3 linked regions of the Homo sapiens genome follow. The protein of the gene in region 2 purifies or fractionates together with the protein of the main gene of each other region. This does not show direct contact. Each region holds a gene or a part of one and is shown on either strand. Other genes may lie near its edges.

What was found. The genes of interacting proteins can lie anywhere in the genome.
Region 1: the proteins of TM2D3 (region 2) and NR2F2 purify together in Homo sapiens (affinity purification with mass spectrometry; 2 studies listed by BioGRID and IntAct, with this or other methods). This does not show direct contact.
Region 3: the proteins of TM2D3 (region 2) and SPCS2 purify together in Homo sapiens (affinity purification with mass spectrometry; 3 studies listed by BioGRID and IntAct, with this or other methods). This does not show direct contact.

The regions. Positions count from the first base shown.
Region 1 is NC_000015.10:96,332,987-96,340,845, reverse strand, and holds the end of NR2F2 (COUP transcription factor 2), read right to left. Parts: intron 7,586-7,859; exon of another isoform or gene 7,539-7,585; intron 7,082-7,538; exon of another isoform or gene 6,989-7,081; intron 6,771-6,988; coding exon 6,243-6,770; intron 3,499-6,242; coding exon 3,224-3,498; 3' UTR 588-3,223; downstream 1-587. UniProt on the Homo sapiens protein: Ligand-activated transcription factor. Activated by high concentrations of 9-cis-retinoic acid and all-trans-retinoic acid, but not by dexamethasone, cortisol or progesterone (in vitro). Regulation of the apolipoprotein A-I gene transcription.
Region 2 is NC_000015.10:101,648,787-101,656,778, forward strand, and holds the start of TM2D3 (TM2 domain-containing protein 3 isoform a precursor), read right to left. Parts: upstream 3,596-7,992; 5' UTR 3,576-3,595; coding exon 3,485-3,575; intron 2,988-3,484; coding exon 2,910-2,987; intron 1,376-2,909; coding exon 1,218-1,375; intron 1-1,217. Other genes in the region: TARS3 (threonine--tRNA ligase 2, cytoplasmic), read right to left, coding at 5,796-5,944. UniProt on the Homo sapiens protein: Probable positive regulator of Notch signaling.
Region 3 is NC_000011.10:74,965,553-74,973,411, reverse strand, and holds part of SPCS2 (signal peptidase complex subunit 2), read right to left. Parts: intron 7,650-7,859; coding exon 7,489-7,649; intron 3,848-7,488; coding exon 3,713-3,847; intron 1-3,712. UniProt on the Homo sapiens protein: Component of the signal peptidase complex (SPC) which catalyzes the cleavage of N-terminal signal sequences from nascent proteins as they are translocated into the lumen of the endoplasmic reticulum.

The DNA.
Region 1 (7,859 bases), 5.3 Mb from region 2:
CAATCTTCCCCCAGGTTTGTTTGAAAGTGGCGAGAAGCAGCGAGCGCCCCTCTCTCTCCTTGCACTATTGTTGCATTTCGCGTCTAACTGGGTTCTCTCACACCCCCGAGCGCCACGAGGAGGAGGGGGAGCGGGGTTGGGAAAAGAAATAAAGCGAGCTCAGATCAGATGAAAAAAAAAAAAAAAAAAAAACCCAGCAAGGAAAAAGAGACACTTAAAGGGAAAGAGTCGCCATGTTTAGCAGCTTTTTTAAAGATCTCGTCAATTTCACACAGAACGCGCTCGCTGGGTCCCAGCCCTCGTCTTTTGTCCAATTCAGTCGCAGCAAAGATCTTTTGTTCTAACTCAGCGTGAAAAGAAAAACTTTCTTTAAATGCAATAAACTTAAACCGAACTCAAGACTCTAAACAGATCCTCCTCCGGCCACTCTAAACATATACAAGGGGGTTTGTTTTAACCGGTTGAAAAATTTTGGGTCCTGTTTTTCTGCCTCGCAGACCCCAAGCTCATTGCTTAAACTTAAGAGTGCGAGAGAGATTTCCAACGTCTAGAACACATGCTTAAAGCATAATAAAACAGGGATTGTCTTTTGCTTTGAAAATCATAAATTATAATTTAATGCCAATAATAATTTACAACAAATGGCTGTTTACAATAAACTAACACAAAACAAACAAGGAAAAGGGCCTGTGTTTTACTTATTAGAGAAACTTCACACACTCACATGGATAGCACTTGCAAGAGGAAGAAAATCAACAACAACCGACAAAACCTCGAACTAAAGGTCAGCAATACTGTGCCGTAAGAACATACTTGTATTTATATATGTATATATCTACAGAAATAAGTGAGAGTCAGATGGAGAACTCTGCACAAATCAGATTTTACTGGTCTGCATGTATTGACTGGATCTGAATATTAACGTTTAATACACTTTACAAAATTATCCCTGTTCTTTCACCTCCCTCACTAGTCCTCCCCCCCCCCCACCAATTAGAATTAAACCACAACATGATGAAGTACTGGCGGTGGGGGGGTGGGTTGGAAACCTTGAATAAGAACAAAATTGCAAGCTCCCAGCACCGAGCTTCCTCCAAACCAGGAAAAGAGAAAGAGGAAAAATGAAAAAAAGACTCCAAAAGAAATAGTTACTACTTCCAAATCAGCACACCCTGTAAAGTTTCCCTCCTTCCTTCTTTCTTTTTCTCTGTCCTGCTTTCTCTTCCTTAATTTGGCTTCTAAGGACAAAGGATCCCAAGAGCAGTACAGATTGTAGCCACACAATCTGAAATGTCAAAATGTCGATGTGTTTTTATGTACATAACTCCAATGGAAAAGATTCCCTTGACCCTGTGGTCATGCTCTCACAGACTGAAGGTAAAGGGGGGGAGGGGAGAGGGAAACCAACTGCAAGTTATCATATATACATTAAAAGTAGACCTTTCAGTCTTAGAACCTGTATCACTGAATTTGAAACTCTCTCAACAACCACGCTAGAGTAGAATCACAGAATATTTTAAAAAATCGTACCTACTTAAGGAAAAACTCACTGCAAACAACTGTCCTCTAGTTACAATGCTGTGATTAGCTTGCTTGAACGATCTTCTGAGTAACTGTCAGAAATGTACAAAAGAGTATTTTTTTCTGATCATAAAATAGATACTGATCTCAAGATTTCTAATACTTTTTCACAATACCTTCCCTAAGCAGGCACTTAAGTGTGACAAATATAAGGGCCTTTTTTTTTTTCCTGGAAAATCCATTTTTAATTAAAAGGAGGATTAGGTGAATGGGGGTGGTTTACTATATCAGTATGGCACTTCCTAAACCATAGATAAACCATTAACTTCAGCTCCCCCCCCAACACACACACACCCAAATTAAACAGGCAAATACAGTAGTCCACCTTTGAACAAACTGACTGAGGGGAGTAAACAAATGCCCCCCCCCACCACCCCCCGCCCGGCCAGCTAAGCGAGAGCTCACAGGGGCTCTTCTAGATGTAAAGACAGTGAGTGGGGACAGCCAGGTTTCAGATATCAAATAATATTTTAATTTCTGAATACTTTCAATTTTCCTTGGAATATAACACACAAAGACTCGACCAAACAGTTCAGTTATTATAACTTTTACAGTATACAGAAATGTTGCACTTAAAAAAAAAACCTTCAGTTTTTTTAAAACACAAACTGTAAACTCTAAGATACTGAATCAATCACGTTACCTATAAGTGCCAACAGTGTTATTTTTGTCATGCTGATTTCAATGGTATTTTTTAAAAAGGGAAAATATCAACAATTATAATACAAAGGGTTTGCAAATATACAAACAGATATAGGATTTTCATAACAATTCAAGAACTAAGCGGGACCCAATTCAAATTACAAAAGTTCACTTTTTATTCAAAACCTCAGCATGTGTCTTGGACACATTCCTTGGCTGCCAATAAATTCCACAGTTCATTCTCTTTCTTAAAATATTTTTTAAAAGCTAGGTTTGTCATGGTTTCTTTTGGGGAGGGGCAGGGTAGGGGAAGTTAAGTGTTATATGTGGTTCCTCCAGTTCTCTAATTAGAGTGCTCGACTTCACCTAAAAATTTTGGTCACCACTTGTAAGTGCGTTTCCATCATCTTTGAGTTGCCTTTTAAAGTTTTATGTCTTCCTATGGTATTTTCATGGACTCAGTTTTAATTCTTGCAGAACATATATTTTAATGATACACAGTTTTTAAGAAGCCAAGATTATATCAAAACTTATTATAGAACCACAGAATAAACTGGTTTGGAACCAGAAAAGTACAAAAAAGAACAGCTAGAGGTACATAGACACAGGACAATTAATAATTTGGAAAAAAAAAAGACTTACTTTCTCCATTCTGCTAATTGTCTCCCAATCTCCTTAAATGCACTTTTAGCAATATTTTTCAAAAATTTACCAAAAAAAGAAAAAGACTAATTTCCTTTTTATACAAAAATGATAAGTAGCAAGTTGTTCTGACCGACACAGGAGTTTTTTTTTTTTTTTAATGCATTCTGTAAAAGTTCATTTGACAGTCTTTTTTTTTTTTTTTGAAATTCACAGTCCATTAAATTCTTCCCCTCTCTTCTTTTAGCAAACTTGTAACATCCTTTTATATCCTTTCTTAACAGAAGGAAATTAAGCAAACAAACCAGTCTTTTGCCTTTTCTTTCTCTGTTTCACTCCCCCTTCTTATTTTATTTATTTATTGAATTGCCATATACGGCCAGTTAAAACTGCTGCCGGACAGTAACATATCCCGGATGAGGGTTTCGATGGGGGTTTTACCTACCAAACGGACGAAAAACAATTGCTCTATGACTGAGGAGGAGACGGTGCGGAGGGAAGGGAGGCGAAGCAAAAGCTTTCCGAATCTCGTCGGCTGGTTGGGGTACTGGCTCCTAACGTATTCTTCCAAAGCACACTGAGACTTTTCCTGCAAGCTTTCCACATGGGCTACATCAGAGAGACCACAGGCATCTGGAAGAAAGTTTAAAAACAGAAGAAGAAGAAGAAGAAAAAGAAGAAGAAGAAGAAGAAGAAGAATTCAGTCATCAGATTAAGAGGTTTGAATTGGGTCACATGAGGTGTGTGCACAGAGCTCTGTCAAACTGCCCCAACCGGAGTTGGAGCAAATGTCTATGTACTGAAAACTTAAGGGGGGGAGGCGGGGTGGGGGAAGAAAGAGCAAGAGATGGTCCTGAGGAAGTGTTTGCTTTAAAATAAAACATAGCTCAGTGTGCTACAGGCTTTCACTGCCCGAGTCCTTAGCCTGGGTCATTGAGAGGCCCAAGCAAAAGTGCATTGGGTCTGTCTGGCCCAAGTCAGTAAACAGAAGAAACCAAAACTACCAGCACTCTCTCCCCTCCTCCTCTGTAAATAATAGTTTGGCTTATAATTATATAGGGGTTGGGGGTTGGGGGTGGACAACCTGGCCCAGTCCCGAGTAATGGCGTCCACGATCCAGCCTCAGATTCCCCCCAAAGAGGGCGACTCATTTTTCTCCAGTCTTTGAAACTGATTTAAGTGGCCCTTTAAAACTGATCTTGTCAGTTTAGCCTATTGAAGGGCAGCCATGCAAACCGTGATCTCTCTGTTCATTTGAGCTGTTTCTTTTCCCCCTTTTTCTTCTCTCTCCCTTTTTCTCCTACCCCCCTTTATTTTTTAAAACCCAGGTCCCTCCGAGAAGCATCCCCCCTCCCTGTTATCTTCAGGAAAACACTTTTCTTTTTTGATACGTGAAAATACAGTAAGTGCCTTTGAAATGAGAAGCTTCTTGGTAAAGGCGGTTCAGGTTGTGACCTGACCTTTCAGGGCTCCCCATACAAGACTGGGGTTAACATATGCATATTGTGAGTCATTAAAACAGATATTCGAAAATCTCCACCACCACCTCCACCCCAAGAACCAGAACACACATGCAACCTCCTCATATGTATATCTAGGACTCTGCATGTCTACAGAATGTAGAGGTGTCTGTGGACAGGAACTAAAAGATCTGTTTGCACAGGACTCCTTCCCTCGGCATCCTCGGAACTGTGTGTCTCCCTCTGAATCAGATAACAGGAACCTTTATCTCTTTGTGAGGCGATTTGCATTCTCCACACAGGCCTCCACATTTTGCAAATAGTCATAAATTAAACTGTTAACGACAGTATCAGGCATTTTTTTTTCCTTGAAAGACCAAGGGTAAGGCTAAGAGCTAGCAATGATACCAAGAAATTAACGACTACCTCCATCGTCCAAGAAGGTGGGCTGGGTGTTGGGTTGTGGGACAGGGGTGAAGGTGGCTATGAGGTAGGGAGATATCTTGTCTGTATATCTGCAGCAGGCAAACGTTCTAGGTATGAGGGGCACTCGAGAAAAATAATCCCTATCCAAACCTCTGCAAACAGCTTCCCTGCCCAGACACTGGCCTTTAATTGATTACCTAAGGACTTCCAAAGGCAGAATTTGGGGTGGCTGTGCTGGGAGGTTTTATGTGGAAAGCAGCAATGTACAAGACAGCAGTTTGAGGACTAAGAAGCTGCAAGCTGTTCAGCTAATGACTTAGTTCCCCAGACTTCTTTCGAACAATAAGGAAGAGATTGTGGACCTCCTTTATGTTTGCCACATAAACTACACATCTCTCCTCGTTTCCTGTTAACAAGCTTAAAAAATTGTAGTGGGTGACTAGGTTCCAAGCCCTGCTAACGTCCAGATGTTTGTTATTCTTAATCGGGAACCCCTTTCCCCTCTCAGCCATGACAAAAGGATCAGCTGACAACTTAGTACAAGAATGTGAAAGGGGGTTGGTGATTTCCATCCACCTGGGCTATGCTGAACTCAGCCTGGAGGCAGCCAAAAAGCTCAGGTGTGGCCCAAAATGGAAAGCCAGACACCTTCAAAAATCATTTTGCCTCAAGTTAATTAGTATCAGCTCTATTACTCACACAGGTTAAACTACATGCAAACTAATTAGATTGCATAATGCAGTCAATGATGGTTTTATATCTCTAGCAACATCCATATCCAGCCCAAGTTGGCATACACTTTGGGTTGTTTGAAAATTGCCTTAAGTGTTTGCTTGGGCAGGGGAAGCAAGAGGCCAGAGTCTTCAACCTCCTGCAGACATTCTGAAGAGTTATGACGGTCCCTTTCCTCCTGTTGCCCCATCCTGACACATCTTTTCGCCTCTCCTGGCAGTCTGCATTATTCCAGTAAGAATATGATTTTGAAAATTGCTGCCCTCAGGTTGGATTTGCCTGGAGCTCCAACTCCTATTGAGTTAGCAGGCAAACTTTTCCCTGCAGAGACAATGTCAGGGCTGCTCCACTGCCCAGGGCATCTCCTGGAGGCCCAGCCAGGGCGCTAGAGAAAACCGAGGGCTTGAGGAGATTCCCTGGGGCCCAGCAGGCCCGGGGGGCCTGGGCTCAGGAAAGGGAGCAGGAGAGGGCATCCCAATCTGGATACTGCAGGTGGGGGAAACAGGCAGCAGAGGCTGCCCTATGGCCCATGTGGGGAATCTATCTGAAGCATCCTTCCTGCAATCCAGCCTTCCTCTCCTCTCCCCAGGACAGGCCTGGTAGTGCCCAGCAGCTATAAAAAGTTCCCACTTTAAGTTGCACTCAACAGTTTGGCCTTTCAAGGAGCAGACTGGGTTTGCCCTGGGGACTCCCAAGTTCTCTGGGCCCCAGCTCTGGGCTAGGAGCCCGTGGGCACGAGAAGACAGGGCTCCTTCCTACCTGAGGTGAACAGGACTATGGCCTTGAGGCAGCTGTACTCGGCTGAGTCAACGTGCAGCGCCTTGAGCTTCTCCACTTGCTCTTGGAAGATCCGTATGTGGTCCATAAAGGCGACCACCCGGTCGGCGGACATGGGCGAAGCATGCAGGCCGGCGGCGGCCAGGAGCGGGGCGACGTGGAGGGGCATGGAGCACTGCGCCGCATTCAACACAAACAGCTCGCTCCAGGTGAGGCGAAGCAGGGCCACCTGGTCCGTGATCTGCAGGTCGGGGAAGAAGGGGATGTTCCGGGCCCACTCGACGGCGCTGAAGAGCATCCTCGCGGCCAGTTCGCAAATGTTCTCGATACCCATGATGTTGTTGGGCTGCATGCATTGGCTGCCGAAGCGCGACGTGGGATAGGGCTCCGCGCGCAACAGCAGGGAAATATATCCGGACAGGTACGAGTGGCAGTTGAGGGGATCCCCGTTGGTCAGCGCGAACTGCCCGTGGGTCGGCTGGGTCGGCGGCATCCTGCCCCTCTGCACCGCTGCGGGGAGGAAAGGAGACACTCCACAGTTAATGACCAGCCTCAGTCCCCAGGTTCCCCGGCGGGGTCTGCCCCAGCCCGACCCCCACCTGACCCAGGCCCTGAGCAGCGCAAGAACCAGGCAGGCCTGCCACAGAGCTGGAGTCGCCAGGCTCTTGGCACCATTCCTTTCAAACCACCACCCAGGCGAGCTCTGAGGGCCAGAGGGGCACACTTGCCTCCGAGGCCCGCTCGGGGCTGGTCCGCCGAGGACCCAGAATTGGCCACCTTGCCTCGGGGTCCCCGGCGCTGTGGGCGGGATGTAGCATTCTGAGGGCATCTTTCTTCTTTACTGCTAAACAGCTGATATTTCTTATTGATTGGAGGAGAGGGAGCGGGAGGGGCGAGTCTGGGGGGAGGGTGAGGCGCTTTTGCAAAAGGCACGAGGGTCCACCCCAGACGGCCTGTGGCCACTCCGGAACGACTCTCCCACAAACCCCGAAGCCCCAGCCCCAGCCCGGCGGGGAACCCCCCCAGTGAGAGACAAGCAGAGAGCGGAGGTCTGGCGTCTGTCTAATCAGTGTGCTCGGAGAAAGAGACGGAGGGAGAGGGCGGAGAGAGAGAGGCCGGCTAAAGAGAGAGGAAGCCGGGAGAGGCAGGGAGCAGGCGGCCGGCACTAGCGGAGCCTGGGCAGGGCCTGTAAGGGCCGGGGAAAGCCGGCGAGGCTCGGGCCCAGGCTGTTATCTGACTCCGGACCGGGAGAGTCGCTCTCGCAGAAACACAAAGAAACCCCGGCGTTGGCTCGCCCCAACCCGGAGCCCGCGCCCCGCGCCGAGCGCGCCATTGGCAAAGCACGGCTCGCGGCGCTCGGCGAATTTTATATCACAAAGACCCAACTCGCGCAGAGCGAAAGCAGCCGCCCAGGGCCCCTCGCCCACCCTTTCCTACTTCCTATCGCGCTCTCTTCGTTTCAAAAAGTGAAAGGAAAAAAGAAAGCAGAGGTATTTTTTTTTTTAGCAGGATGTTAATCCACGGAGGGTCACATGAGCGCTGCCCGGGCGGCAGCGTTAATACGGCGAAGTGCATAAAATTGCCATTTGTAATTTGAAC
Region 2 (7,992 bases):
CATTTCACTTCTTTTGAATCTTTTGCTTTAATGAGCAATGCAGCTAAAAAATAAGCACACTTATCTGCATCCATGTATAATGATATCTATAACATAAATTCCTACATGTACAACTACGAGCTCAACGATTGTGTGCATGTGTAAGTTTAACAGATATGGCAAATCGCCTACAAGAGGTTGATCAATTTGATTACCTATTAATAAGATATGAGCATCTGACCCTTATACTCTCACAAACTCAGAGTTAATCAAATTAAAAAAAAATTGCCAATCTAAGGGTTAAAAATGTATTAATTAAATACTATGAGAAAACTTATATGTTTTTCATGTTATATATCTATTTGTATTTCCTTTCCTATGAACCATCTGCTCATGTCCTAACACTGTTTTTCTACAAGACTGTCATCTTTTCCGTGTGGGTTTTAGGAAGTGTTTATATATTACTGATATTACTGTATTATTTGTCACATATTCTAGAAACGCTTTTTCCTAGTTTGCCATGTCTTTTGCCTTTATGCTTTTTTTTTTAGGTCATGCAGAAATCTCCAATTTTTAGGAGTCAAATGTATCAATTCTTTATTTTATGGCTTCTAAACTTTATTTCATACTTAGAAAAATATTCTCCATTTTGGGATTATAACAGCAACTATCTGGTGTTTTCTGTGGTACTTCAGGGTTTCATTTTTCACATTACATCTTTGGACTATCTGGAATTTATTCTGGATAAGACAGGCGTTCCACTTAATTTTGTTCTAGAGAGCTACCAGGCATTCCGGCATTTACTGAATCCATCTTCTCACCACAGATAAGCACTGGCCCTTCAAAAGCTCATCTATGGCAGAAAGACACTGCCACCCCCTCTGTACACTAGCTGTCACTATTGAGAACACAGAATCCATCTGAACGAATTAGACTTGCTTCAGATATGCTAGTAGACTGAGATCTTCTCCAGTCCTACAAAGCAACATTTCTGTCAAGTGCATTTCCAGCAGACATCAACTGGCTTGACAGTTATCATTATAACTAAAACAGTAGTGAGCTGATATGGAAAGGTCTATTGGGTTTTTTAATTTATTTCTGCTTACATACTCAAAAGGGAAATCATAAAAGAATATAAAAATTCTTCAGAATTTCTTCCCAATAATCAAGTCTGAATTGTTCTTCTAACTTAAAGTTTACAATGAATTTATTTAGAATAAGTAAGCTGCAGTACTTACAACACAGGTAACAGATGGTTTCACTGCACAGTCAAAAGTGACAGGCTTCCCATAGGTACAGGAGAAATTTGTTGTGCAGTCTATACAGTCTGCAGGAAGCCTGCTACACAAACCATTGCTCGGACACTTCATCACATAAGGTGGGATTTCAGTACTTTCTGTGAGAGGCAAGAGAGAAGCTTATTCTCCTATAATACTGATTCGAATAACAGAGAACAATCTTCTAAGGTTAAGAGACGTGATCATTAGCAAGTAGACACTGCACTGGAAGGGAAGAAGCATGGGACTGGAGTCAGAGACACCTGCAATTAAAGCAGAATTCTGCCCACGGCCAGCTGTGGGACCTGGTGAGCACCACACTTGTAAAACATTACTTCATTCCTGCCTCCCACGTGGCCGTGAAAACTAAAGGTGCTCATATACAAATAATGTATAGAAAATTCTGGGTATACATTAAGGGCTTAAAAAAAAGACTATCATTTTGTAAGTTGAAAAAAAACTTACAGTAGGGTTTTGCAAAATCACAGAGGAAGTCTGTGGCAAAACTGGAACTAGAACCCAAATCTCTCCATTTCCAATCCCGTGTTCTTTTCATCTGAATTCACTAATTCAGAAATGAAGCCACTGACATCCTCAGGGCATCAACTTTAAAATGTCATTATTTCACACTGGTACTTCGATAAGCCACATTTGCTAATATAATATTTACAGTTTTACGCTACCAAAGTTCAAAACAGTTCTCTACTTTAATAACATCTTCAGTAAGCTGCAACTTATTTCCAACCAACCTAATGAGTGTGCAATGTATTTTTACCAACTGAAAGGATCAAAATTGCAAGTATTCCTGAAAAGAAGGGCTTTCAAAAGCCTGCAAGAGTTAAGAACTCTTGTGCTTTCTCTAAAAAGTAATCTGAGTTTAAAATTCAAGTGCACTGCTGTTTTTTACATCCAAATAAGAATCAGTAAAATATCTCTGCCAGTTTCAATTCACTGAAGTAATGTCACTTTAAAGTGATGAAATTATAGTCAGAGCCTCCACCTAGCAAAACACACTAATGCTTGTTTAAAACTGGTCCTACTTTACTCACTGTATTAAGGAACAATTCTACAAAATACTCTTTTTGATCCCGTGACTATGTGGCTGGAAGGTGGACACTTAGAATCACAAAGCAGAAATGACTTTAGGTCGTCAGACCAACCCCACCGCTTTAAAGATGAGGACCAAGGTCCAAAGAGGATAAATAATTTGTTCAAGATCCCAGTAGCAAAACCAGATCTAGATTTCAAGTCTCCATCAGTCCCGCTGTAATCCTTCCATTTCCACAGTCCTGAGGGAGCCTTTAATATTCCAACATCAGGAACAGGGTTTTAGCAGTAGAGGAAATTTGCTGAAGGGAAAGAAGCACGGACTGAAGGTTATTTTGATGGATGAAGTGGAAAAATAATAGAAATAAGGTGACAAATGAGCGTGGGATTGGAAAAAGAGAGGAGGCAGAAACGTCAAAAGGTATAAATACGAAGACTATCTACTGAAAATGGCTGTGTATCTACCCTTAATTCACATAATCTAAAATACAATAAATATTCAAAAATGGAAAGTGACTTCGTATACTAAAGGGAATTTTTATAAAAACAAAGAGAAACTACTAGAGATAACTACATGTATTTACTAGAATAGAAAACGTCTAGTACCTGCTGCCCTGGGAACTACTGTGAATGTGCGTGTTGGGCCCGGATCCTTTATTGACTGAGCCAGCGCCTGCGATTGCTCTAAATTTAAGGATCGTACAATTAGAGAAACACGTTATCCCGGGACAAGAAAACCTTATTTTGTGTGGTTAACACGGCGGGTCTACACCAGGCCAATAAGCTGCTCATGAAAACCTCACGGCTGGTCAGCCAGAAAACACAAAGCTTAGGGACGAAACGTCAACAGAGTAGACATCAGTTCAGGTCAGCCGGCAACGAGGGACCGAAGGATGACATCGCGCTCCAGTTCCGCCTCCCCGGCCCAGCCCCCAAGCGCTCCATCTCCGTGCCAGGGCTCCGCAGCCGCGATGGCGGGCTCGGTGTCGCCGGAGCGGAGGGGCGGCCTCGGGCCGGGCGGCCAGGGCGCCAGACTCCAGATGCAGCGACAAGCGGCCCGGAGCCCGGCACTCGGCCTCCTCCCCGCGTCAGCGTCCGCCCGTGGGCCCGGCCTCCTCGCAGCTCCCGGGGCCCTGCTGCCACTCAGCCCCACCCGGCGCTGAACCCAGCCTTTGACTCACCACCGCCCGACAGAATGCAGAACTGCGAGAGGAAGAGCAGCACGCGACACAAGGCGCGGAGGCCCCTCAGCGGGAGCACCCCTCCCGCCATCTTGCCAGCGCCTGCGCACTTCCGGGCCGGGGGGCGGGGCGCGCCTGGGAGCCGGAGCGTGAACTGGACGCAGGCGCGCTGCGACTCCTGGCGGCCGGCGTTTGCGCTTTCGCTGTCCTCGCGCGGGTCGCGGGTTTTCTTCCGGTTGAGCCTTCTGGGAGGTCCCCGAGGAGGATGCGAGCCTGGGAGGTTGTTCCATTTCCACGCGCCCCTCACGCCCTTGGACGAGGCCCTCACCCCTGGTTCCACTGCAGGAGACCTGTTAAAGGTCATCCGTGGACCGAAATGCGCGCCCGAAGCAACCAAGAGCAGAGGCGGGCGAACGCGGGAGGCTGGCCGCCCCAGTGTGTGGTCGGATGTTGTGTGCTGGATCTCGTGCGAAGGTTCCGAGGACACTATCGCGTGGCGTTTCATCCTAAAGACACTTATTTACAGTCGGGGAAGCGGCCCCGGGACGACGAGGGCCCGAGGGACCCCTCCCCTGGGGCCGGCGCTCAGGCCTGCCGCGGCTTTCACTTCTGGCCGGCCTCTTGAAGATACGCAGCACTTCCAGAAAGTTCCTCTCAGGCCTGGAGAAGCAGGATGGCCCGAGGCGCTGGGAAGTGAGGGGAGGGTCCAGAGCCCAGCCCTGCCTGGGGAAGGTCGCGGCCGTCTGGGGAGCCGCGCTCAGGCCCCAGCTTGCGGAGACCCTTGCCGGTTTCTGTCACAGCACACCTGGGAGAAAGCGCTGGTGACAGGTGCTCTCCTCCCACCCACGTGCTTCGGGATCGTTCATTCCGCGGTCTTCTGACTACCACCCCCTCACGTGCATGTTTGCTGAATGACTTTTTAAAAAATACATGGAAAAGTGCCGGCACATAAGCCCTGAATGTTAGCTTTAAAAATCGTATCACGGCCGGGGGCGGTGAATCACGTCTGTAATCCCAGCACTTTGGGAGGCCCAGGCGGGCGGATCACGAGGTTAGGAAATCGAAACCATCCTGGCTAACAACACGGTGAAACCCTGTCTCTACTAAAAATACAAAAAAATTAGCCAGGCGTGGAGGCACGCGCCTGTGGTCCCAGCTACTGGGGAAGCTGAGGCAGGAGAATCGCCTAAACCCGGGAAGCGGAGGTTGTAGTGAGCCGAGATCGCGCCACTGCACTCCAGCCTGGGTGACAGAGCGAGACTCCGTCTCAAAAAATAAATAATAAAAATCATATCACACAATCTGCACCTTATACTACTACACAAGCCTGATATATATTGTTTTGTTTGCCAACTGTTTCACTGTTCACATCCCTCAGGAAGTTAACTAAATGATCAGTATATTGAAAAGAGATTATTTCTTACATTTCTTTTGAATTTCACAGCATATCGCAAAATAAACAATACTTCTTGTTTGGTAGCTGAATTCTCTATTGACATAATGCCATTTTAATTCAGTTCTGAGCACGTAGAGCATTCCTCTCTTTAAAATCTGAAATCCATTTCAGTACATAAATCCATGGAATGTCATCCCATCAAAAAAGTAACAACTCTAGGTGAGCGGCTTAGTGGTGGTAGAAGCCCACAGCTGAAACGCTGGAAACACTGATGCAATTCATTTGGGAATTTATTTTTTTCTAAAGCGGAACAAAACCTAATTATGAATAAGAAACATTTAAATGGCAACTCTTAACCTATAGTGCAAACACCAGATTCCACAAAACTGAATTCCTTTGTCAGTAATCCAATATTTAGCAGTAGCTGCTGCTTTTGTGGTTGTTGGTTAGTTAAAATTAAGTAATGATTCCAGTTTAGAAGATAAAGTTTCAGTGTGAATTTTAGTAGAAGTCATAAAAATACCTGAGACATATTAGAAAATAAGATTTTCCCTCCTATTTAAAAAAAACTCTGCAGACTTTTATTTGAAGCCCATCTTTTGAAAATCACTAACATTTCATAATCATTTCCTAGTGTTTTGTTTCACTTTCTCGATGAATAATATTTCCCCATTTAAGTTTCTCAAGGCATTGATTGCTGGAAAATTTCCCACGTGCCCTCTAAACGTCCCCCGTGGACATGAGTAAATTAAACTTCGTGCATGTCAGCTACACGTTCATCGTCTCCTTTCTCAGCTGAGGCCATGAGTGGACCCATCAGTGGCTCCAAAGTCGTAGAAGTACTAACATGTTAAGAAAAATACATTTTTAAGGGTCAAAACAAAGTTACACAGAAGCAAATATCAGGGAAGGACTTCAAAAGGCCTCCTCAGCATTGAGTGTCCGTGTCTTCCTGAGATTCTTCAGTTTATCAATGGCAGAAGTTACTAAAATCTCTCCATGAATTTTGTTGTCTCTTGTTCGCACGTTTACAGCATTATCTATCTTTTCCTTTTCTCCAACCACTGCAGAAAAGAAAGGTAAAGAAATGTATTTTAAATCAGCAATTTACCAAACATTAAGTCAGCAGTCCCATGACATGTTTTTATCAAGTTTTTCTTCACTAATATTAAATATCATCTAATGAGCATTTGGTTCATCCTCTGATAGTTAAGTTTCTTGAGGGAAGCAATGACTTCTGATCCCATCTCTCTATTGTCCACCTGAGAGAACAGCTCTTGTGGTCCTGGGGTGCAGATGAGAGGGGGGAGCTCTTACAGACTCACACTGACTGCACCTGGCACTAGGGCGCAAATGAGAGCGGGGAGCTCTTACAGGCTCACAGTGACCCCACCTGGCACTAGGGCGCAAATGAGAGCGGGGAGCTCTTACAGGCTCACACTGACCCCACCTGGCACTAGGGTGCAAATGAGAGCGGGGAGCTCTTACAGGCTCACACTGACTCCACCTGGCACTAGGGCGCAAATGAGAGCGGGGAGCTCTTACAGGCTCACACTGACCCCACCTGGCACTAGGGTGCAAATGAGAGGGGGGAGCTCTTACAGGCTCACAGTGACTCCACCTGGCACTAGGGCGCAGATGAGAGGGGGGAGCTCTTACAGGCTCACACTGACCCCACCTGGCACTAGGGTGCAAATGAGAGGGGGGAGCTCTTACAGGCTCACAGTGACTCCACCTGGCACTAGGGCGCAAATGAGAGCGGGGAGCTCTTACAGGCTCACAGTGACTCCACCTGGCACTAGGGCGCAAATGAGAGCGGGGAGCTCTTACAGGCTCACACTGACCCCACCTGGCACTAGGGCGCAAATGAGAGCGGGGAGCTCTTACAGACTCACAGTGACTCCACCTGGCACTAGGGCGCAAATGAGAGCGGGGAGCTCTTACAGGCTCACAGTGACTCCACCTGGCACTAGGGCGCAAATGAGAGCGGGGAGCTCTTACAGACTCACAGTGACTCCACCTGGCACTAGGGTGCAAATGAGAGCGGGGAGCTCTTACAGGCTCACACTGACCCCACCTGGCACTAGGGTGCAGATGAGAGTGGGGAGCTCTTACAGGCTCACACTGACCCCACCTGGCACTAGGGTGCAGATGAGAGCGGGGAGCTCTTACAGGCTCACGCTGACTCCACCTGGCATACCTGATGAGCCAAGGAGTGGACACCAGACCCATGCGAGCCAGCCAGAACTTTCTGGAATGTGGGTAAAAAGTTTGTTCTCTCTAGTGACCCATATTGTGAGATGATGCAGGAATCTACAGCCATGCTTCTTGCCACACAGAAGGAAGAAACCGGTCTGCAGATAAGTGGAATAAGGTAGATATTCAAGAGAAGCATAAAGAACCAGAGCAAGACAGGAACGAGAAATGGGGAGAAATACTCCTGGTGAGGGTTGAGCTCCTGATTGCTCTTCTAGTGGTTTGGCTATTTAATTCTACCTTTCATGTCATGGGATACTCCAAGACCCTTCCAACAAATGCTGTCTTTGTCTAAACCAAGTTGAGATTTCTGCCACCATAAGAAGCCTGACTGAAACAGCACAATACCTACTCTGGTGTCAAACATTATCATTGAAACACTGTCAATAGAACAATGCTATGCATATTTATTTCGCCTTCTACAGACTCTCAACTTACAAGAAATAGCAATACTGTGCCTGCAGTTATATCAGTGTTAGTTTCTCTTAATTTTGGAATCATTTTTAAAGCCTAAATTTTAGATTCTGCATCTAATTAGTCATATGCTAAAAGGACATTTTACTTTTCATCTAAATCTTTTCCTTTAGATCATTTTAAATTTGGGATCTTTTCTTTCTGTTAGTTTAATCCCAAAGTTTCCTAATAAGCCAGAAAAGTGAGGGAAAATATTACAGGCCTGTGAGGCTGAAATATAAAGTATATAATTCTACTGATGGGATCATTTTCAGAGTTGTTTTCGTTGTTTGCTTGCAATATGAACTATTGCTAGTAAAACTATCCCAGGGGATTCAGGTGAAACTTTACAACTCTTCTTCCAGCAAACAACAAAGAGTACCTAGGAACAGCTAAGCTAGGA
Region 3 (7,859 bases), on a different chromosome or scaffold from region 2:
GTAAAACTGAGAGGCCAAGTTACTAGAATAACCATCTATGTGAATATGGCAATCACCAAGACTTAAGAAAGGACAAATGTTAGAGAGAGTGCCAATGAGCCAGGAATTATCTTCAAAAGACTAGGTGTGTGTTTAACCGCAAAGAAGAGGCATAGAAGTGGCACAATGTGATGACATGCATTCAAAGGGGGGATTTTAGGGAAGAGGACGCATTGGAAGCTGCAAAGGAGAGACCCATCTCTACCTGTAGTACCGGAGTAATGAAGGCTGTGAGAGAAACATCAGCCACCACTTGCAGTCTGCAGTGGAAATATGTCCTCAGAGGTTATGGTCAGGTTTCACTTAGGGTAAGAAAGAGAAGGGATGTTCCCCTTCCTGTGTCCATGTGATCTCATTGTTCAATTCCCACCTATGAGTGAGAATATGCGATGTTTGGTTTTTTGTTCTTGCGGTAGTTTACTGAGAATGATATATCCCTTGGGGAAAATATTGCCTAAGTATGCAGGAAAAAAAAAAATATATATATATATATAAAACATTAATAAGAGAGATTAGATTGATTTATAGCTATGCTATAAATGAAATGAGATAGATTTTATATTGTCTTATAACCTTATATGGTAAATGTTCATATTACAAAGTTAAATAAAAGTTTCAGTGGATCCAATTTGTTGTTTAAAAAAAAAAAAAAGAGAAGGGAATGTTCATAGAGATGGCTAGGTTATAGGGGACTTTGTGGATGGCTGACAATGACTGGGCTGCAGGCAAAGACTAATTAGGAGGTCAAGGCTGCAGCCCAGCCCAGATGAATGTCAATCATTCACATAACAAAACATGCCACGCCAGGCCCTGGGCTGGGTCTGGTTACCAAGGGGTGAGTGAGAAAGTCCCACCTGGGCTTAGGTTTCTACTGTATAGTGAATGGTAAAGGAGCTCACACTTTGGAGGAGGGGGCGGGCCCAGGAGGAGACACAGATATTAAATAATTATAGCTCCATGTGGTAACTAACAGAGGTAAGCATAAATGCTTTTAAGAATAACTAGGATGGGCTGGGCGTGGTGGCTCACACCTGTAATCCCACCACTTTGGGAGGCCAAGGCTAGGCGATCACTTGAGGTCACGAGTTCAAGTCCAGCCTGGCCAACATGGTGAAACCCCATCTCTACAAAAAATACAAAAATTAGCCGGGTGTGGTCGTGGGTCCGTAATCCCAGCTACTCAGGAGGCTGAGGCAGGAGAATCACTTGAAGCCGGATGAGGAGGTTGCAGTGAGCCAAGATCGCGTCATTGCGCTCCAGCCTGGGTGACAAGAGTGAAACTCCATCTCAAAAAAAAAAAGAATAACTAGGACCACCTAATTTAGACTAAGGCATGTTAAGGAAGACTAAGGTATGTCAGGGAAGGCTTCTTGGAAGTAGGAGTGAGCCAGGTTACAGAAAGATAGCTAAGCCAGAGAGAAGAATATGTTTAAAGGTACGGGGTCACTGGAAACTTGGATAACTTAGCATATTGCAAATTCCATAATATTGCCAGAGTAAGAGAATGTATTTTGAGAGGGGCATAAAAGAAAGCTGGAGATGTCACTAGGGGATGAATGCTGTAATACTTCATATGCTGAAGGAGTTTAGACTGTATAATGAATTTGCTGGGGAGTGACAAAATCACTTTTTGCGAGAGAGTCACATAGCTTGTGTTGTCTGCACGTGGCAACTAGTAGTCTGTGAAACCTTTCATTGCCATTTTCACATCACATGACCTGGCAGTGGGAATAAGACATCAGAATCAGCCACTGTTAAGCTACTAAATCAGTCGGTGAGGTGGGGGAGGGAGAAGACATCAGCAGAAAGCCGGGAAGAGAGCAAGAACATTCACATTCCACTCCACCAACAATACGGCAGTTGGTAAAAATCAGCAGGAAACGTGAAAAAAATCAGAACCCTTGTACACTGCTAGTGAGATTGTAAAATAGGGCAGCCACTTTGGACAACAGTCTGGCAGTTCATCAAACAAAGAGAGTTAGCATACCATACAAGTCTTCTCCCAGGTGTATTACCCAAGAGAAATGAAAACATGTCTACCTAAAAACATGTACACAAATATGTATAGCAACATTATTCATAATAGCCAAAAAGTAGAAACAACCCAAATGTCTGTCAACAAATGGATAAACAAAATGGAATGTTACTTGACCATAGAAAGGAATGAAGTACTGATACATGCTACAACATGAACGAACCTTGTGTGCAGTATACATAGGAAGTAATTGCACTAAGTGAAAGAACCCAGTTATAAAAGACCACATATTGTATGATTCCATTCATATGAAATGTCCATAAAAGAGAACAGAGAAAGTAGACTGGTGGTTGCCCAGGGCTCAGGCAAGTGGGAGGATAGGGAAGTGATTAGCTAGAGTACAGAGGTTTTTTTTTTGAGGTGATGAAAATGCTCTAAAATTGACTGTGATAATGGTTGCAAATATCTGTAAATACTACTAGGTACTTTTGAACTGTACACTTTAAATGGGTGAACTGTATGTATGGTAGGTGAATTATATAAAAGTTCTTAAAAAATACAAAAGTCAGAATAAAAATAATGAAATTATAATGCCGCTAGGTTTTAGAATTCTGCAACTCAGCTTCAGTGGCCTGGTAGAGGATGCAGATTATGATGGCTGAGGCCAAAGGGCAGCTAGAAGCCCTGTCAGGAGATAAGCAAGAACTCAGCTGCAACAACAGAATGAAGGTCTGCTTCCCTTTCTCATAGGCGCTTCTACAAGTTGGCAATGAGACAGTCTGTATGGCACAGATGCTACACTTAACTTCATATATAAATAATTGTACCTATAATTTGTGCGGCTATTATGCACCAGTTAAGTATAATAGGTTTTTAAGATAGTGACTACGAGTATGAATTCTGGTTTCAAACTTGGGCTGGAATTCCTGCTCTACCACTTTTGGGCTATATGATACTGGAAGAGTTGATTTAAACTTTGGGCCTGTATTCTTATCTATAAAATGAGTGTTCTAAAACTTAATGAGATAATGCATTTAGCAGAATACCCAACATACAGTAAATGTTCAATAAACATTTGCTATTATTATAATTGGTATTTCATCTTCCCAGAAACTCTAGGCATCATTTTTGACCCCACTAAACCTCAGATAATTTATATGATTTACCCAAAGTTATACAGCTAGAAAGAAACTGAATTGGAACATGAACCTAGTTCTTGGTACCTACAAAACACATGTGTGTCAGCTGCACAAAGTTATACCTGACACTGGTCAGAAACAGACTCTAGATTGTGCTTTTTTTGAGTTGCCCAGTGCACTGCTCCAGATATTCTTGATTGTATTCGTGGAGAGAAGACAGGATCATAGAAGACACAGAAGCTAATGGAATTCTTCAAAGATAACTGATCTCACATCTTTGGCCTTTATACTTTTGTATGCTTAATCGTCTCTGTTAACTGGCCACAGGAAAAAGTACCTTCTCCCACAGTTTATCCTCAGAGCATTTCTGTGATAACGCAATCTCAGAACTATAGGGCTAGGACAAACCTTCTAGATCATCCATACTCCTTTCTTCATTTTATATGACTAGCCCTATGATCCACATAGAGTAGGCACATAATAAGTCTTCTGTTGATAATGACAACATGCCAGGGCAAATCCAACACCAGGATTTAAAAATCTGTGAGGATAGTCATACCTTTTAAGACTGGAGGACAGCTGCCAAATATCATCAGGATCCATTCCTGTAGGATCTTTCCTGTGGGCCACGAGAAAGATGCTCTTCTCCTTATATGAGGTATAAATGGTCAGAATCCCCATCATCACAAAATAGGTTCAAATAAAGTTAAGGGGAAAATACCCAAACATAAAAGAGAAGTAACACAAATTGACAAGCAACAGATATAAAAACTTTCATAATGATAGTCCTAAAGAAGACAGCTTTGTCTTGCTGCCAAAACACTGAAAATTTAGCTATTTCATTTTCATCCTTATGTTTATATACCAAGAGAAGCAAGGCTCTCTCTGGTTAATTCTGCAAACACCTCAGAAAGGAAGAAAAGAAAAAGATACAGAGCATAAACTAGCTCTCATCTTTATGTTCAAAGACAACATGTATAATAAGATACCTAGTTTGTCAAGACTTTGTTATAATAGTGCTTATTTCTTTATAAAAAACAACGAATAGTCCCAGTGGACTTGACCATGTTCAACTGATTTTAAGGGTTATTAAGAGAAGAAAAGTGACCCAAATAGTTTACTATAAGAGAGTATGTCAAATAGTACTACGATTACTTCCTATATGCATATAGACTTATTATTATATTGTTTTTGACAGTATTAAGTACCATAGTTAATAAGCACTTATAGTTTGCCAAAAACTGGCATAAGAGCTTTGTGTATACTGTGCCATTTAAATTTCATAAACAAGGCTGGGCACGATGGCTCACACCTTTAATACCAGCACTCTGGGAGGCCGAGGCAGGTGGATTGCTTGAGACCTGGAGTTTGAAACCAGCCTGGCCAACAAGGAACAATGGGAGACCCCATTTCTACTAAAAATACAAAAATTAAGGCTAGGCGTGGTGGCTCACACCTGTAATCCCAGCACTTTGGGAGGCTGAGGTGGGCAGATCACTTGAGGTCAGGAGTTCGAGATGAGCCTGGCCAACATGGTGAAACCCCATGTCTCTACCAAAAATACAAAAATTAGCTGGGCATGGTGGTACATGCCTGTAGTCCTGCTACTCAGGAGGCTGAGGCATGAGAATGGCTTGAACCCAGGAAGCAGAGGTTGCAGGGTTGCAGTGAGCCGAGATCGTGCCACTGTGCTCCAGCCTGTGTGACACAGCAAGACTCTGTCTCAAAAAAAAAAAAAAACAAAAAAAACCCACAAAAACCAAAAAAAAATTAGCTGGATGTAGTGGTGCAGGCCCGTAATCCCAGCTACTTGTGTGGCTGAGGCAGGAGAATCACTTGAACCTGGGAGGCAGAGGCTATAGTGAGGCAAGATCGTGCCACTGCACTCCAGCCTGGGCAACAGAGTGAGACCCTGTATCAAAAAATAAAAATAAAATAAATAAAATAAAAATAAATTTCATGAACAGTGCTCGCTTCGGCAGCACATATACTAAAATTAGAACGATACAGAGGTTAGCATGGCCCTAGCACAAGGATGACAGGCAAATTCATGAAGCATTCCATTAAAGAAGAGTTAAAAAATAGATAAATTTCATGAACAGGAAAGGCAGGAAAATATAGTACAAAGTATATGGACTTTAGAGTAGAGATAATCCTAGATTTAAATCTTGGCCTTTAATCAGTATGATTGTAACAAATAACTTCCTTCCCCAAGTCTTAGTATCCTTACCTTTAAAATTGGGATAATACTGATGTTTTAGAATTATCATGAGATTTAGAGATGAAGGATATATGCAGTCTAGGATACAGAAGACTTTTTTTTTTGAGACAGGGTCTCACTCTGTCACCCAGGCTAGAGTACAGTGGCATGATCTCAGCTCACTGCAGCCTCAACATCCCAGGCTCAAGCAATCCTCCCATCTCAGCTTCCTCAGTAGCTGGGATTATAGGTGTGTGCCACTACACCCAGCTAATTTATTTTTTATTTTATCTAATTAATTTATTTATTTTGAGACAGAGTCTTGCTCTATCGCCCAGGCTGGAGTGCAGTAGCAGATCTCGGCTCACTGTGACTTCCGCCCCCTGGATTCAAGTGATTCTTGTGCCTCAGCCTCCCAACTATCTGGGACTACAGGCATGCGCCACCATGCCCAGCTAATTTTTGTATTTTTAGTAGTGACAGATTTCTCCAAGTTGCTCAGGCTGGCCTTGAACTCTTGGGCTCAAGTGATTCGCCCGCCTTGGCCTCTCAAAGTGTTGGGATTACAGGCATGAGCCACGATGCCCAGCAACAGAAGACATTTATAATGGTAGTCCCTACATTATAAATAAAACTGACATGACAAAAATAAGACCTTGTTTTATTAAACAAATATAACCAAACAAATGAATTACCATCAAGGTAGTTCTCTTGGGAGGCCAGATATTTGTAATAATGTTGCTATCATTTTCAAATCTCTTTGGAATTCCCCTGGGAACTGTCTCTAGAACCTATGGAATATTATTCTTCTGAACTGCCTTAATAGTGAAAAATTCATACTGGGATGATTAATCTGATTACTGAAAGGAGTCAAGGATCACCTGGTGCCACTTCTGGGGGAAATGTGGGGCAATCTGGATAATACAATTTTTGACTAGGATCTGCTTTATCAGAGGTTTGCTAACTGCCTCTGAAGATAAATCCCCAACATGAAGTTTTAAAACATATTTCAGGTTGGCTGGGCACAGTGGCTTATGCCTGTAATCCCAGCACTTTGGGAGGATTGCTTGGGCCCAGGAGTTTTGAGACCAGCCTAGGCAACGTAGTAGGACCTTGTCTCTGTAAAAAATTTAAAAATTAGGCAGACATGGTGGCATGTGCCCGTCTACTCAGGAGGTTGAGGTGGGAGAATTGCTCGAGCCAGGAGGCTGACGCTGCAGTGAGTCATGATCACACCACTGTACTTCAGCCTGGGTGACACGGTAAGACCCTGTCTCAAAAAAAAGAAAACAAAACAAAATTTAGGTAGTGGTAACATTGTTTAAAAAAGTAAACTACCAACCAAAATTACCTATTTTAATAGTGAAGTATAATTAAGTTCTTTATATTCAACTTCTTGAGAAAAAAAATCACGCTGGGTAGGCAACGACCATGATCTTACATTTATCATAAAAAAGAGGGGAAAGGAAATGATTATGTATCAAATACAATATAAAATCTCTCATTTAATCTTTATGATAATTCTGAATGCTACCCATATTTATAAATGAGTGGTATTCAAATCATCTCAAAAATAAGTAAATTTTCATTAGCACAAGATCACAGATACCTTGGATTTCAAACCCATATTCTCTAGCTCCAGAATAAGTTCTTAATTCCACTGTAATACAAGCCACACTTGTATCTCATGCTCAGTACTTTCCAGTTCAGCTCCTCAGCTTCAAGTAAACTTAATACAGATCTGAGTCTCCAAAATCAGATCCTTTCCTAATATCCTAGAATGAGTGGCTTGAAGCAGCCACGTCTAACGGGAAAAGTTCTGGGCTAGAAATGAGAAGAGCTGGGTTCACTATTACTATGTGTTTTGCTATTAAGTGCTCATATTAGGACAATAACCTCTACATTAATAACAAAAATGAATTACGATAAAATAACCATACAAAACATAAAATATCAGTGACAGTTACTATATAAACTGATAGATATTTACTATATAAACATCACAGCTCAAAATGTTGAATTCTAACATTAGCAAGCCCTAATATGAAAGTCCGTTTTGTTTTTTGTAGGGAGAAATATCAGCAGATTTAAAAAAATAGTCACTAGAAAACAACCTGAGCATAAATAAAGGATATGATATGACACACAAAGCCAAAACGGGTTTGGACTCTGGAAAGGGGTGCATATAATCCCAAATCAAAGCCACTATGGCAAAGAAACAGGAGATTGTACAGATGGTGAGGCGACCATCAATTAGACCAAAATTCTCCACATATTTGTATTTTTCCAGAAGTACCTGGTGAGAAAAACAAGGAATCAAGCTAATAGGAATACTTCCTCCCCAGTATGTGCTTTTATTCTTGATTTCCATGATAAAAGAATCATATGAATTACCAAGTAGTTCCCTCCAGTTGGGATTTTACCACACCAAACAAGTAAAACTCAAGCCTTCTATAAAGAACCAAGAGAAAAAGTTCATCAATCCCTCATATAAAAAACTTTAAAC